Linked DNA regions of Homo sapiens. The protein of the gene in region 2 purifies or fractionates together with the protein of the main gene of each other region. This does not show direct contact. Each region holds a gene or a part of one and is shown on either strand. Other genes may lie near its edges.

What was found.
Region 1: the proteins of FAM81B (region 2) and PYGM purify together in Homo sapiens (affinity purification with mass spectrometry; one large-scale study listed by BioGRID and IntAct). This does not show direct contact.

The regions. Positions count from the first base shown.
Region 1 is NC_000011.10:64,749,793-64,753,613, forward strand, and holds part of PYGM (glycogen phosphorylase, muscle form), read right to left. Parts: coding exon 3,727-3,821; intron 3,396-3,726; coding exon 3,281-3,395; intron 2,713-3,280; coding exon 2,611-2,712; intron 2,280-2,610; coding exon 2,132-2,279; intron 1,864-2,131; coding exon 1,805-1,863; intron 1,675-1,804; coding exon 1,533-1,674; intron 792-1,532; coding exon 584-791; intron 1-583. UniProt on the Homo sapiens protein: Allosteric enzyme that catalyzes the rate-limiting step in glycogen catabolism, the phosphorolytic cleavage of glycogen to produce glucose-1-phosphate, and plays a central role in maintaining cellular and organismal glucose homeostasis.
Region 2 is NC_000005.10:95,408,285-95,412,105, reverse strand, and holds part of FAM81B (protein FAM81B), read right to left. Parts: intron 1,339-3,821; exon of another isoform or gene 1,163-1,338; intron 1-1,162.

The DNA.
Region 1 (3,821 bases), on a different chromosome or scaffold from region 2:
ATTTTTTTTTTTTTTTTTGAGGCAGAGTCTCACTCTGTTACCCAGGCTGGAGCGCAGTGGCGCGATCTCGGCTCACTGCAAGCTCCGCCTCCTGGATTCACACCATTCTCCTGCCTCAGCCTCCCGATCAGCTGGGACTACAGGCGCCTGCCAACACGCCCGGCTAATTTTTTGTATTTTTAGTAGAGATGGGGTTTCACCGTGTTAGCCAGGATGGTCTGGATCTCTTGACCTTGTGATCCGCCCGCCTTGGCCTCCCAAAGTGCTGGGATTACAGGTGTGAGCCACCGCACCCGGCGTAGAGCAAGGATTTTTTTACTTCCATTTCCCAAACAATATTATCTCTTAGGGTTGATATAATATTCTCTTCCTTTTCCTTCAGTTCTATATTACTTCTTTCTTTTCCAATTTCATTAACCTTATTTGCTGTAAGCGCCCTCTAAAGTTTCCCAGAATCCTGCTGGCCATGACCAAGACCTTGCTGGGCCTGGACCAGTCTTTCCAGACGTGCCGCTTGCTCCCAGCACCACTCTCCAGCAGCCACACCTGGGTGTCTTTTGCCCGTGAACCCTGACCCCCATACCCTCTTTGGTCAAGCTTATCCACATCCTCCACCCGCATGCCAAAGATGAAGAAGTTTTCCTCTCCCGCCTCTTCTGCCATCTCCACATTGGCCCCGTCCATGGTGCCAATGGTCAGAGCCCCGTTGAGCATGAACTTCATGTTGCCGGTGCCTGAGGCTTCAGTGCCCGCAGTGGAGATCTGCTCAGAGAGGTCTGCAGCTGGGATCACTGTGGGGTGGCAGCAGGGGGACAAGTCAACTCAGGGAAGACCCTCACACCAGCTGGGGACTCTCAGATTAGGCTGGCCCCAGGCATAGCTGGACTCAGAGTCGCCCCACCCCAAACTCCCAGTCTTCACCAGCCAAGCCTCCCTCTCACACCGCACCCCCACTGCCCTCTACCTCTTGTTGATTCTTGACCATCTAGGTCCAACCTGGATTTCCCCACCTCTGTTGCAGATTTGAAGGTAATTTCACCCTGTACTGCCTGAAATTCCACCATTAGAGGGCATCCTCATGGGGTTTTTGCTTTGTTTTGTTTCCTCTTGTTTTTTGAGACGGAGTTTTGCTTTTGTTGCCCAGGCTGAAGTGCAATGGCGTGATCTCGGCTCACTGCAACCTCCGCCTCCCAGGTTCAAGTGATTCTCCTGCTTCAGCCTCCCAAGTAGCTGGGATTATAGGCACCTGCCATCACGCCCAGCTAATTTTTGTATTTTTAGTAGAGACGGGGTTTCACCATGTTGGCCAGGCTGGTCTCGAACTCCTGACCTCAGGTGATCCACCCACCTTGGCCTCCCAAAGTGCTGGGATTACAGGCATGGGCCACTGCGCCTGGCCTCCTCATGGTTTAAGCATTGCCCTCTCCAGATTCTTCTTTCAAGTACAAGTATCCCAGGAAGAGACGACTGATACCTCTTCCTGAGACTGAACTAGTCAGAGCCTCCCTAGGGTCCCTGTTGGCAGCACCCACCTTTCTCGGCCAGTGAGACTCGGTAGTTCTCCAGGAAGATGACACGGAGGCGGTCACCCACTGCCGGGTCATGGTTGACCACATCCCCGATGGCTGTGACGAGTCTGATGATCATCTTGGCCATGTGGTACCCAGGTGCAGCCTGAGGGGACAAAGTCTGGGGTCAGCTCTACTGCCTGGCCCCCCACCCCCTATCCTGCAACTCAGCTGGGCTGACCTCAACCTGGATATATCAAAGGACGGGAGCCCAGGGCTGGAGCCTGGCTTCTCACCTTCCCTCCAATCATCACAGTCCGAGGCACAAAAAACTTATTGGGCTCCCTCTTGATGCCTGTGGAGAAACGAGAGGGATCCAGTGGGCCTACCTTTCCCTCTGGGTAGTAGCTCCTGACAGAGGCTGGGCTGGGACACCGTAGGCCTGACTCGAACAATCACTTGCTATGCTCTCTTAGCCTCAGTTTGCCCATCTGTGAAATGGGGATAATTCCATGTCCCAAGAGTAGTCCCAAGTCCAAAGGAGATGTTGGTTGGGCAATATGTACTATGCCGCAGGAACACGGGGGAGCACTGAGAGACAGGGTAGAGTGGCTGCCACTCACGGTTGTACAGGGTGATGACATGGAGGCAGTTGAGGAGCTGTCGTTTATATTCGTGAATCCGCTTCACCTGGATGTCGAAGAGTGAGTTGGGGTTGATGTGGACTTTGTATTCCCTCTCTAGGTAGGCAGCAAACTTCAACTTGTTTTCCTGGAGGCAGAGACGGGGAAGGGCTCACCAACAGGCCACAGCCTCAGGAAATCCTACAGTCCACACTCCAGTCAGCCCCAGGAGGATGGCTACCAGGAGGCTCACTGGCTACTTCTGTCCACTCCTGTACCAGGGCAGACATTGCTAATCAATGTCAGCACTGTTCATGTGAGGTCAGATGATGCCTTCCCACCACAGACTCCAGGCAACTTCCACCAACGGCCTGGGCTGGCAGGAGAGATGAGCTCTATTTGCCACGCCTGACCCAGACATCTGGCCCCTCCAGCGCTCTCCACACAGCACAGCTGTCCCACATTGCATCTCTCCCCACCTGCTTCACTTTGGCCACATCCCGAATGAAAGCTTCATCATCCACAAAGGAGAGCAGTTTGCGCAGCTGGTCCAGGTCAGAGATGAAGTCCTCCCCGATGCGCTATGGGAAGACGGCTCTCAGCCAAGCCCATCCCCATGTCCTCCCTCCTCCCAACACAGAAGGGGCCATTTCCAGGTCAGCCAAGCCCCCTTCACCCAGCAGGCTGCTCTGGGGGCCCTCCCAGCCCCTCCTCCTCCAGCCGCCCAGATGGGGCACGGGGCATCCATGCACCTTCCTCCCCTCCCGTCCTTGAGCTCTGATGGCTGACCCCACCTGACCCCAGCAGGCCTTCCTGGCTTCCTGGCCTTTTCCTAACGCCAGCATGACCTTGCGCCTTCCCTACCAGATATCTGCCCCCTTCCAGGCTCACTTCAGATGTGACCCATGGATGACTCCCTCTGCTGTGTTCACCTCCACAGCCAGGGCCTCCATTAGCACACAGAGCACCCTCATGCAATTAAGATGGTGTCCCTCCTCCAGGTGGATGCGAGGCTTGGGGAACACAGTGCAGGAGGGATTTCAGCCTTCAGCTGGGAGCCCTGATGCAGTGAACCACCTACACGACCATACCCAGCTGATCCCTGCAGGGACCCATGTTGACTCTACTGGCCCTACGGTGGCCTCTCACCTCAGCAATGACCTCTGCCAGCCCGGGGTTACACAGAACCAGCCAGCGCCGAGGGGTGATGCCGTTGGTCTTATTCTGGAACTTATGAGGCTCCAGCTCATAGAAGTCTTTGAAGCTGCAGGATGAGGTTGGACGAGGGTCACCACTCACCCCTGTACAATGAAGGCCTCTGCCCTGGGGCCCCTACCCTGGTGTCTTGCTGAAAGGGGCCTGGGGCAGGGAATGCAGACCTGGGGAAGGTTGGGGGTGCTGTGTGTAAGAGGAGGTCATCTCAGGACAGGGCGGCACTGGAAGGGGCTGCTGTGCTTGTAAGAATGACGCCACCTGTGAAAGGCGCCAGGGCCCAGAGACCAGAGAGTGGTCGGTGAAGGGCGGGGCTTCTGTGTGACAGAGGCGTGGAGTGGGTGGGGCCTAGAGAGGGGCGGGATCTGGAAAGCGGGGCTCACATGGTCTTCTTGAGGATCTCGGAGTGGATGCGCGCCACGCCGTTGACGGCGTGCGACCCCGCGATGCACAGGTGTGCCATGTTGATGCGCTTCAC
Region 2 (3,821 bases):
GTGAATGTTGGCCAGCTCTAATGGACTACCTCCAGGCAATTGCCCATAATGTATCCCTGTAATATACTTTTTCAAACGTTGAATTTTCTTTCTAGTTCTTTCCCACTATCTTAAATTGTCAGCATTGTTATTATTACTTTTCACAATTTGCTATGCTGTGTATTTCATCTTCACATCATTTGCAGTACTGGAGTATAAATTGTATAAAGACTTTCAGAAAGTTCTAATTTGTTTTATGTATATTTTGTCAATTTGACTCCACAAAAGTGCATTATCACAACATTGACTTTGTGTGTAAGCATTGTGTATGTAAAAATGTTGAAACTTCCCCAATAAATGAAGAGATGTCCTTTTTTGTACAACTGCATTTGTGAAAGATAAAATTTCTTAAGATCTCAGCTCTTTGTGCAATTGCATATGCCGTAGTGACTCATTGAAGTTTTGGATCAATCTTATCAAAAGACTTAGGTTATCGTCATGGTGTTTCAGATGACTACAGTTATAAAGCTGGTTGCATAAAATTACCATAGTGTTATGCATTTATACATTTTGAATCTTGACTTATTTCTTTATGAATATGGTTCATCCACTTATAACATTATACCCATATGACTGTTGTTAGTATACCTGTATGTTTATGCTTGTAAAAATACAAATGTTACTATTGCCTATTTTATTATGTAAAGTGGCCTGTGAAATGCTCTGTCATGTTTTTATATGTTTCTAAAATAAATCTCCTTTTATAAATGTGAAGAAATGTCTTTTAAATTATTTTTTCCAGAATTATATTTTGGGGATTTAGATCTTTTTGGGATTTCCACATTTGGTATTATGACATTCAGGATTGTGTTTTTTTGGGATTATCAAACCCGTTAATGGAATAGTTAACTGGTCCTAGGTCATCCAAAGCCCATGTGTTAAAACACTTGCTTATATAGTCCCCAAATACAGGTTATTTCCAAAGCCCTTATGTGTACTGATTTCTGACCCTATACCAAGTCACATTTTTTATACATGAACATGACAACATTCCTTCAAATCTATATAACTGAGTGAGAGGTTTACTTTAAATTTGTCTTTAATGCTATTAAATTTCTTGGGGATTTCTTACTATCCTGTGACCCAGTAGAAGGGGCTGCGGGTTTTCTCTCTTTAATCTTACCTGCTTAGTACACTGAATTTCTGCACGAATTTTTATTTGAAGAAATGTTTCAATGTCTCAGAACTATTTATTTGGTAGAGCCAGGATTAGCTCTAGGTCACCTGTAACTTAGCCTAGGATGTTTTCCATGTTGCCGCCTCTGAATGGTAGCAAATTATGTTGTGAAGATCACTGGAAAGAGAAGTCAGCCTTAAGGAAAAGGAGATTTGGCCTTTATTAGGGCCTGGAAATAAAATGATGAATACGACAGATAAAGCCCCTGCCCTCTTGGAAATATATATTTGTACCTATATACTTATGTAGATGTATAGATATATAGTATATATCTTTTAAAAATGACTATTATATATGCTGGATCATAAAAAGCCAAGGCCAAATAATTCATGCTTGTTCCCATTGCATGAGCCAAAATAACTATTTGCTTTAGGCCAATAGTGACAGATTTTCTTGGAAGTGAAAATGTCCTCGGGACAGCAGATTTTAGGGCCAGATTGTGAACATTAGCATTTTCTGGACTGCGGGTTTCAGCTGGGGTTGTGTTTAGCTGTGTTTATCAGAAATCCAGAGAGAGTGACTGAAGCAAGTAGGGTTTGTTTGGCTCAAGTAACAAGAAGTGGAGAGGTAGAGCAGCTGACTGAGGAAGTCATCAGGTGCCCAGCTCCTTCCGGCTTCCTGGCCCACTCATAGTATGTGACCTTTACCCTCAGGTCTCAAGGTTGTTGTTCCACCTTGAACTATTGTGTCCCCATTCCCGATAGAAAAGACAGAAGGCAAAAAGTAAAATAAAATGTGTGCATCTGTTGAGTTTGTCCCCACCCGTCCTTTTTTAAATCGAGATAGCCTTTCTAAAAGACTCACTATGACACTTTTGTCTATATTTCATTGGCTGAAGCTATGTCATATAGCCACCTCTTATACCTTATTTTGTTTTGTTTGTAGCCTTAAACAAAATTGGGACTTTTATTAGCAAAGAGGAAGGAGAAAACGTCTACTGGATTGACTACTGGTGGTATTTGCCATATGCAATTTTCCTCCTTTTTACCTCCAATTTGATATCAAGTATCTCTGCCAAAGGAATTTAAAAAATAAGAAGTTTGTTTCTTCCCTGTTGGTTGTTTGCTTTCTGAGGATTAATCTGTAGCTAAGTTTTTTTGGGCAATGCCAGAAGCTGGCTAAAGTTTGGCCACAGATATAATTTTATTACCCTAGTGATGGATGGTTGCTCACAAGGATCAGTGTGTGTGGATGGCGAGGCTTCAACTGCCCAGTGAAGGTCAGCAGAATCTGGTTGGCTTATAAAGGAAGAAGAGGGGCTCATGCTATGCAGGTAAATAAAATATAGAAATATATTACTTCTTTTTAATTTAGTAGCTCTGTAATTTCATCTTTATAAAACTGCTCAAAAGAAATATAATGTAAACCTTATAGACAATTTTAAACTTTCTAATAGCCACATTAAGAAAAATTCTTTAAAAACTGATGACAGGCCAGGCGTGGTGGCTCACACCTGTAATCCCAGCAGTTTGGGAGGCTGAGGTGGGCAGATCACTTGAGGTCAGGAATTTGAAACCAGCCTGGCCAACATGGTGAAACCCCATCTCTACTAAAAATAGAAAAGTTAGCCGGATGTGGTGGCACACGCTTGTAGTCCCAGACGCTCGGGAGGCAGAGGCACAAGAATCACTTGAACCCGCAAGGTGGAGGTTGCAGTGAGCCGAGATTGAGGTACCACACTCCAGCCTGGGCGACAGAGCGAGACTCCATCTCAGAAAACAAAATAAAACAAAACAAAAACTGATAATGTTAATTTTAACAATATAATTTATTTAAACCGTTATATCTAAAATGTCATTGTAACATGTAATCAATGTGAACTTTTTAATGGAATATTTTACATTCTTTTTAAAGATAAGTCTTTGAAGTCCAGTGTGTATTATACACTTATAGCACAACTTCTCAATTTGGACTAGCCACATTTCAAGTGCTCAACAGGCACATGTGGCCAGTGGCTACTGTTTGGGATAACATAATTCTAGAACCTGAGAATCAGAAAGAGGGAAGAAAACGTCACTGAGCAGTCAAAAACATTACCACCGTGTCCATACACTACTCCTGCACTTTATAAATAGTTATAGCTAGTATCTTTGAGCATTTAATACAAGCCAGACCTTGTGGCTAGCACTTTAAATGAGTCATCTATTGAATCTTCATGATAACACCATGGAGGGTCTATTAATATTACCCTGTTTTTAACGATAATAAAACTGAGGCTTAGAAAGATTGAATAACTTTTGTCCGAGTTTACCCAGCTAACAACAGTGGACCAGTATTCAAGCCTAAGCAGTCTGAAGTTCATACTACATTACATGCAGAGAAGAGGTCCCCTCCAAACTCTGCCTCCAAATCATCCCTGGAATGTGCTTCCTGCTCAATTTACCCACTATTCTAACAAACCAAGTTGGATGATTTCCGGGTCCATACAAATGTAATACCTGATAATTCTATGTTGAGGAGAGGGCTGCCTACTAACAGATGAAAGAAATCACAGATTAAAGGCAAAGATGAGCAAAAGAGTCAGAAGTTCAACGAAAAGTAAACAAAGTAAATTAGAAATGGGAGAAGACAAAGGCCAGGGCTATTTCATGTACAGGCAAAGAAA